Homo sapiens: one gene and its partner. The protein of the gene in region 1 purifies or fractionates together with the protein of each later gene. This does not show direct contact. Each region holds a gene or a part of one and is shown on either strand. Other genes may lie near its edges. The genes, in order: ATP8A2 and ZDHHC8.

The links.
Region 2: the proteins of ATP8A2 (region 1) and ZDHHC8 fractionate together in Homo sapiens (co-fractionation; one large-scale study listed by BioGRID). This does not show direct contact.

The regions. Positions count from the first base shown.
Region 1 is NC_000013.11:26,022,288-26,026,097, reverse strand, and holds the end of ATP8A2 (phospholipid-transporting ATPase IB), read right to left. Parts: 3' UTR 247-3,810; downstream 1-246. UniProt on the Homo sapiens protein: Catalytic component of a P4-ATPase flippase complex which catalyzes the hydrolysis of ATP coupled to the transport of aminophospholipids from the outer to the inner leaflet of various membranes and ensures the maintenance of asymmetric distribution of phospholipids.
Region 2 is NC_000022.11:20,141,494-20,145,155, reverse strand, and holds part of ZDHHC8 (palmitoyltransferase ZDHHC8), read right to left. Parts: coding exon 3,626-3,662; intron 2,401-3,625; coding exon 1,400-2,400; intron 1-1,399. UniProt on the Homo sapiens protein: Palmitoyltransferase that catalyzes the addition of palmitate onto various protein substrates and therefore functions in several unrelated biological processes.

The DNA of each region.
Region 1 (3,810 bases):
CCCCCTGGACTCTCTTCTAGAAAATGGGGCCTTGCCTCAGAGCAAGGAACATGTGTTCATCTGGAACTCAGACTCTCCTGCGCTCCTGCCAGTGAACACTGTTGCCTGGGCCTCGGCTCTCCAGGCAGTGTATGTGTCCTTGAGCCTGCACATGCTGACAAACCCCTGTGTTACAGGCCGCAGTCCCTGTGGCAGTAAATGCTGATTAGTGGAAAAGAAAATTCCAAAATAAAACAGTCCAATCACTTACTTTAACAAAAGATTTATTTGAAACAGGTTTGCGCAGACATACACCAGTCAACAGGATTGATCAAAGCCACAAATCACTAAATTCTCCCAAAACTTCTAAAAATACAAGTAGATGCCCTCCGTTTGTATTCACTCCAGGAGGGAACCCAGTGCACTGTAATGTGCTGCTGTAATTTAACAACCAGAGGACATTAATAGGACGTGAAAACGGTAACACTTCTAGAGGGAGGCAACAAAAAACCCCACACACCATAGAAGCACCCCCCACGCTGCTGGGAGCCAATTAAACGTGCCCCCACAGCCCTGCTTCCCTCTGCATCACCAGATTAAAACCTCCCCATCACAAACAATATTTAAGCAATCCAGGCACAGATGTGACAGCAGACAGGAGAGCACGTGGCTTTGCTCGCATGAGAAAGACGCCACAAAGATGATGCATTTGAACGACAATTCAGTGACCGGCAGCCCCATCCTGCAGCTGGCCCTGCTGCAGCTGCCTGCGTGGCCCTTGAGAGGGAGGCTCAGAGGGAAGCGGCATTGCACAGGCCTGAACTTGGCCATCTCGGGCAACGGGGGAGAGTGGGGCGGGAGGGGAGAGTAGGAGTTTCAGTACTGACATTGATTTTATCCATGAAAACCCAAAAGTCTTTACTGTGCAGGGAAGGAGAGAAATTCCATGACAGGGCTGGTTTCCTTTTTTTCTTTTCTTCCTTTTTTTTTTTTTTTTTTTTTGTTGTTGTTGGTGTTTATTGATTCACCTATAAACCACATATCAGGCTATCTCTTAAGAATACAACAGACTCCAATCCCATTGGAAGTGAGTTCGCAGCCTGCTCTCTGGGCTCTCTCCCTCTTTCCGGCCTTTTCTCTTTCACACGGAAGAGCTTACCTATAAAAGGCTCTTGATAAGCTCTCTTGACCCCCAAGTTTCCTGGGCAGGGTTATTTGGATAGTGCTATTACTCCAACTTTCTTCTTCCTCTTTCTGTCATAAATCAAAGCCACCTGACACTTTGCGCCCGACTTTTAAAACAAACAGGTCTCCTTTCTTTCTTCAGCCAGGTCACAAGAACTGCCTATGGGCTAATCTTGAGAGCATGTTTTTCTTGGTCTGAGGCCTGGGAGAAAGAGCAGAGTGGATATCTCAAAGGCAACTAGAGCCCGAGATTGTCACTTGAAAATGCGCCAGCCTGGGTGTAAAAAGAATCCCTCTTTTGTCTCTCCTCAGTTGGGAGAGCCGAGGTGTTCCTCAGAGGTTAACACTGGATTATACACGGGGTGCGGCGCGGGGGAGCTCGCCCTTCTTTTCTGCTCCCATTTGTTTGTGGCTTCTGCCCATTCAGATTTATGCTGGCTCAATGCCCTTTTCTCCTCACTCAGGGTTACATCCCAGATTCACAAATCACTCATAGCCAACAAATTAAGAGAGCTTTAAACAGAACATTAGTTACAGACTGGGCATTAAATGAAGATCAGGTAAGGTGAAGGGGAATGTACTGATGGACAACTTGGGATGCTGAGAAAAAAAAATAAATGAAGGGTACAACACATCGAGCGTGCTGGTCTGTTAACACCTTTCAAGAATGCCTAATGATGTCATTATGGGGGTCTTGGGCCCTCACCTCCGAAACCCCTCAAAAACCCTTCTAATAGTCCTTCTTGGCCTTCAGGATGGAAAAATGGCTAGAATGAGGTTAAATCTCCCCGAAGGCTATACTGAGACAGTTAACTGCCTTGAGCCAATGAAGAACCAAAACCAAACCCAACTGATATAGATTTTCTTTTTTTGAAGGGAGGGGGTTTTAACTGTTCCCATTGTGATTATATATGCCCGTATAAACATTTACATGAAGAAAACATTTCTTGAGTGTAACAGGGGATGCCATGTTTTGACTCGACCTGATAAACTCATTTCTTTGCCAAGTTATTATTTCAGGCTCTGCTTAGCCACCATTTCCCTGTTCACATTTTTTTATGGATCCCAGGAGATGAAGACTACATTTCAAATGCTGATGTTAAATCACTCCTTGAATTACTTTGAGACGATGACCCTGGGCAGTAACTCAAACCCTGGCTGAAAAGTGTGCAGTCCTTTCACACGTTCAAAACTAAAGACCACCTTATCCTATAGCAGTGTTTTGCAAACATTCAATTCAGCTATGGTCTAAGACATAAATCCCTTGGAACAGAGGTACCTGATAAAAATGCTTTATGGTTCCAAATGACAAGATTAAAGGTCATTATTATAACAAATGGAAATTACAGACTATAACTTTCTTTTTAAAAAATTCAACCTTAAATCCTGTAATATTTACATACATATGCATTATAAGACATTAGTTACCTAGGCTCTTTCCACCCCCCCGCATTTTTCACTGCTTCTTGACAAGTTATTACTGATTTTCACAGCCAGCTCCCTATAGTGAGACGAACCTGAAGCCTTGTCAAGGGAAAGAAAATGTCAACAGAATTCTCAGCTGAGCTCTCCCAAAGCCCAGGTTCACTTCTCAGGATATTCCTCTACAAGTGTTAAAAGAAACAGCACTCCTCGCCCCAAAGCACGTTTTGTATGGTGTGCCGAACCAAAAGAGTTACCATGTTTTTGTTTTCATGTGTGCATGTGTGTGTTGGGAGATGGGTGAACATAACCCTGGTCAAGAAGCCTGGAATATTCTGCACTGAGGCAGGACAGACACATCAGCTCCACTCCTAAATTATGACCGAGCCCGTTCTGATCAGCACAGAGTATTCATCCAGACTACTCTGCTCTCCTGATACGTGTTTTCCACAGCTACCCTTGCTGGCACGTGTCAGTGTGCAGTGGAAACCCAGAACTAAGCCCACAGTACAACTGGTCTCTTCCTTTTGCAGGGTCATCCAGGAGAAGAGAGACTCAACACAGGACTGGGCTGTCTGTACACAGCAGTAGACCAAGGGTTGGCCTGAGTGGATTCTGCCAGTTTAGCTCAATCCAGAGTCAGGCCCTGGAGCGCTAACCGAGCGTGACCTGCCAGCCCGTGAGTCAGTGAGTGTCTGGCGGAGTGACAAGCCCCATGTGGCATTTTTGCTGAGCTGACAGCCAGCGTATGCAACCTAGTCCAGTCCACCCTGCCCCAGGGGAGGGGTTGTGTGTGACACTCTGACCTCAATTTAAAGATAGGACAAATGACACAGCCCCTGAGTTGGCCCTGGCTAAATATTATACATCACACGTAGTGACAGCTGCTCCTCCTAGAAACCAATTTACAGCCAATTTAGTCATTTGGCTGTAAGAATGCTCAACCACATGAGAGGATAGAAAGGCATCTCTTCTAATGTTTTCTTCTGTGTGCGTCTGTCATCACTGCAAATATTGTTTAGTCTACTTCTCAAGAGAATAGGAAAATACACCTGTATCCTTAAATCCCAGAAAATATGAACTCTAATGTAAGAAACAAAAACCCCAAACAAACACAAACACACACTTAAATACATAATTCTGATTTGGAAGGCTTCAAGTTCAAGACAGAGCTAACTGTTTGACAAAGAATTCAATTTCTAATCCACTCTTTCCAAATAGGCT
Region 2 (3,662 bases), on another chromosome or scaffold:
AGCAAGACAGAGACGACGCGGACGTGGACTAGTGCAGCCGAGTTGTGGGGCCCCGTGCAGTCCCTGCCCTCTGGGCTTGGAGGGTTCACCTGGAAAGCAGGTGAGGGATGCAGAGCCTGCCTGGGGAGCAGCTGTGCTGTCACAGGACAGACAGATGTTGTCAGAACTGCCACCACCCTCCCGAGTCCCTGGGTCCCTCCTAGCCAGCACTGGCCACAGAGAGCATGGGGCAGCCAGGTGGGCACTGAATGGAGCCCCTGCCGTGCCCTGCACTGGGAGCCCAGCCACTCTGCCTGGCCTCATTCCTGCTCTCTCTCAGGAAAACGAGGGGCTGCCCTCCTGCCCACCAGCGCTGACCAACAGCAGCTGTATCTTTGCTACTTAAACCTTCTTGAGGCGAGAGCCCTTTGTCCCCGGGCTGCGATCCCTGCCTGGCTGCAATGCTGCCCACTTCTAGGTCTCGGGCTCCCCACTCATCACTCCCAGTGGCAGCCTCCTCCCCAACTCCACAAAAGCTGAACAGGTCCCACCCTGTGGGGTAGAGGAGACCCGCTCAGGGCTGGACTGCTGTGCCCTCAGCCCCTTTGTGGCCAAGTGGCCTGGGCTGGGCTGGGCTGGGCTCTCCCTCTGGGGCTGCATCTGCCGACGGGAAACAACTGCGCCTGTGCTTGAGGTTTCCAGGCCCGGACAGGGCGACAGATGCCGTGAGGACACCATGCGTCTGTGGCGTGGGTCCTGGCCCCAGCAGGTGTGCAGCTCTCCTACCTGGACCTGGGCCTGTGAGCCAGCTGACCCCGCCTTCTCAGTCACCAACCTGCCGGGTGCCTGGAGCCAGCCTGCTTTCTCCAGTCCTCAGCTTCCCCACCTACGAGCAGGGAAGCCCCTGCTTCCTAGAACTATGTCCTACAGGGAGGGCCAGGGCCCGGCCACTCAGGGTGGCACATTCTGCTGCTAGGTAATATCCTCAGCCCCAGCCTCCTAGAGATGCAGCCAAGCAGGCCCAGGGAGAGCCCTGGGTGGACAGGGCCACTGTGACCCAGGAAGCCAGAGCCACAGCCTAAAGGAGGCCCAGGCTGCCACATGATACTGGCCCCAAAGAGAAAGCCCCATGGCCTCCCACATGCTGGGTCTGTGCCAGCTCTAGAAGAACGAGTCGTCGGGCTCAGGACACAAATTCTCATACCCTGTCCCCAGAGCGTGCCCAGGACATCCTCAGAGCTGGGCCACACGGGCTAGCCAAGGCCTTCAAGGCAGGGTGAGGCGCATCCTCCCTGTCCCGTCCCCAGAGAAAAACTCAGGCCCCTGGGATGACCTATGAGTGCCCAGCCAAGAGGGGCCCTGGAGACGGCTGGACAGCTGCCCTGTGCCAGGAAGCCCACCCGCACCTCCCGGCACCCACCTCTGCACGGTCAGCGAGGGCGGTGGCTCTGGGAGGTCCGTGTGGATGAAGGCGACAGCTTTGGGGCCCGCGTAGGATGGTGAGTGGGGAGTGCCGGGCGGGGAGGGCAGGCCCTGGCGTGCAGGTGACCTGTGTGAGCCACTGCTGGGCCGGGGCCCCGGGGCGTTGCTGCTGGCCTGATCAGCCTGCAGGGAGGAGGACGACGTCCGCGGTGCACGGCTCACGGAGCTGGACAGCGAGGACAGTGACGTCTGCAGGGCAGGGTTGCGGGCGCCACCGAAGCCGGGCCCAGCCACAAGGTCGTCTCTGGAGCCATAGCGCAGCGCGGGACCTCGGGGGCCCTCGGACAGCACACTGGCCTGCTGCAGGCTGTAGGAGCTGGGAGCGTCATAGACGCCTGAGTCGCCGAAGAGTGAGTCGGCCTGGGAGCGCAGCAGGCGCTCACGCTCCTCCCTGTCCTTGCGCTCCTGGATGGATGCCATGATGGTCCTGGACAGGTTGTCGTAGCGCACAGGCGAGGGCTCCCGGGGGCGGGGGCCCAGCACGGGGCTGAAGCTGCGGGGTAGGGGCCGTGGCGGGTCGCCCGTTGCCCCAGGATGCAGGTAGGGTGAGTGGTATCCGGCCACGCCAACTGCTGGGTGGGCAGGGCAGGCGTGGCCACCAGGCGAGCCAGGATTGAGCAGGCTGTCATAGGACAGGCTGCCGTTGCGGTTGGGCAGTGCATGGGGGGCAAAAATGCTACGGTGGGGCGTGGGGGGCCCCCCCTCAGAGCGCAGGGGCTGCAGGGCCACATGATCCCCGCCCCGCCGGCTCGAGGCCTTGAGGCTCAGGGAGCGCAAAGCGCCCGAGAAGGCATCAGAGGCGCTGAGCGGTGGGGATGGCGGGTAGGCTGCATGCAGGCCCCCTGGCCCATAGTCAGGGAGGTCCAGGCTCGGCTCGGACACAAAGTCCAGGCTACGGATGCTGTCGTCCCCCAGGGTCAGGGAATCAGGGCCTGGAACCTGTAGGGAGAAGGCATTCTCACCACTGCCCACCTGCCACCCCGCCTGCAGCCGCCAGTCAGCACCCACGGGGGCCACACATGGCACCGTGGCCTCAGGAACTGGGCCTCAAGGAGCCATAAGAGCCACATAGTGACCCATGGCCCTGTCCCTGAGCATCCACGGCTGAGGGGCAGGGGCTCTGCAACAGGAGGGAGGCCACAGCTGGCTACTGCAGACACCTGGGGTTCTGCCCTTGGAGCCATGCAGCCCCAGGGGCCCACCACTCAGGGCAGCCAGAGGGAGGAGGAGCCTCGTCTAGCCCCTGTGACGGGCACATAGGCATGGGCTTGGGCTTGGGCTTGGGACAAGAGCCTCAGGAACCACAAAGCCAGAAGTGGATCAGGGCAAATGTGGGCTCAATGCACTTGGCCAACCAGACCCAATCCCCCACTGGACCCAGGAGTCCCAGGAAGATGACATACCCAGAGCCCTCATCTCCAAACAGGGATGCCTCCTCCTGCGAGGCACGGCCCCTACATGCCTGCAGACTCAGACCCTTGGCCAAGGAGGCTCAGACTCACTGCTTCACCCAGTGACTCTCTCCAGGAAAGACATCAGTCCTGAGGGGAGAGGTCCCTGGGGATGGGGCTGGTCTAGGTGCACAGGGCCCAGTCACAGGCCTGCCTCTCGGGGTGGCCCAGAAGGAAGGATGGCACCCTGGGACTGTTTGGTGTTCCTGATCACTGCACAGACCGCCCCGCACTGCCCACCATTCCAGTGACCACAGAGCACTCATGCAACTCAGGGAAGAGAAATGTGCTTTCTCAAGCACGTCTCAAATTCTTCCAAAGTCTTCCCGTGGGCCTTACAGAGTGACTAATGGTGGAATTCCAGGCATCCTGGTACACAGTGCTCCTGGGGGCAGCCGCCCACCTGGCCTAGGGCAATGCTGGCCAAGGGACAGACGCCAAGCCTGGATGGCCCACGCCAGCCCCTCCCAGGACACCCTGCTCCCCTCTGTGGGTCCCAGCTCTGGGTGCACACAGACAGGGTCCTACCAGTCACACAAGGCCCTTGGTGACCCAGGCAGAGCCCTGAGGGGCATGGCCTCAGGGGATGTGGCCTCTGCTGGAGAGATGGGGCTCTGGAGGTGGGGCCTTCACGGGGTGAAGGCTGTGGGGCGAGCTCCTAGAGGCGGGCCTGGGGGACGAGGCCTGCCAGGGGGCAGGCTAGGCCTCCTTACCTGCTCGCCTGGTCCACAGAAGGGCACCTTGGGACCC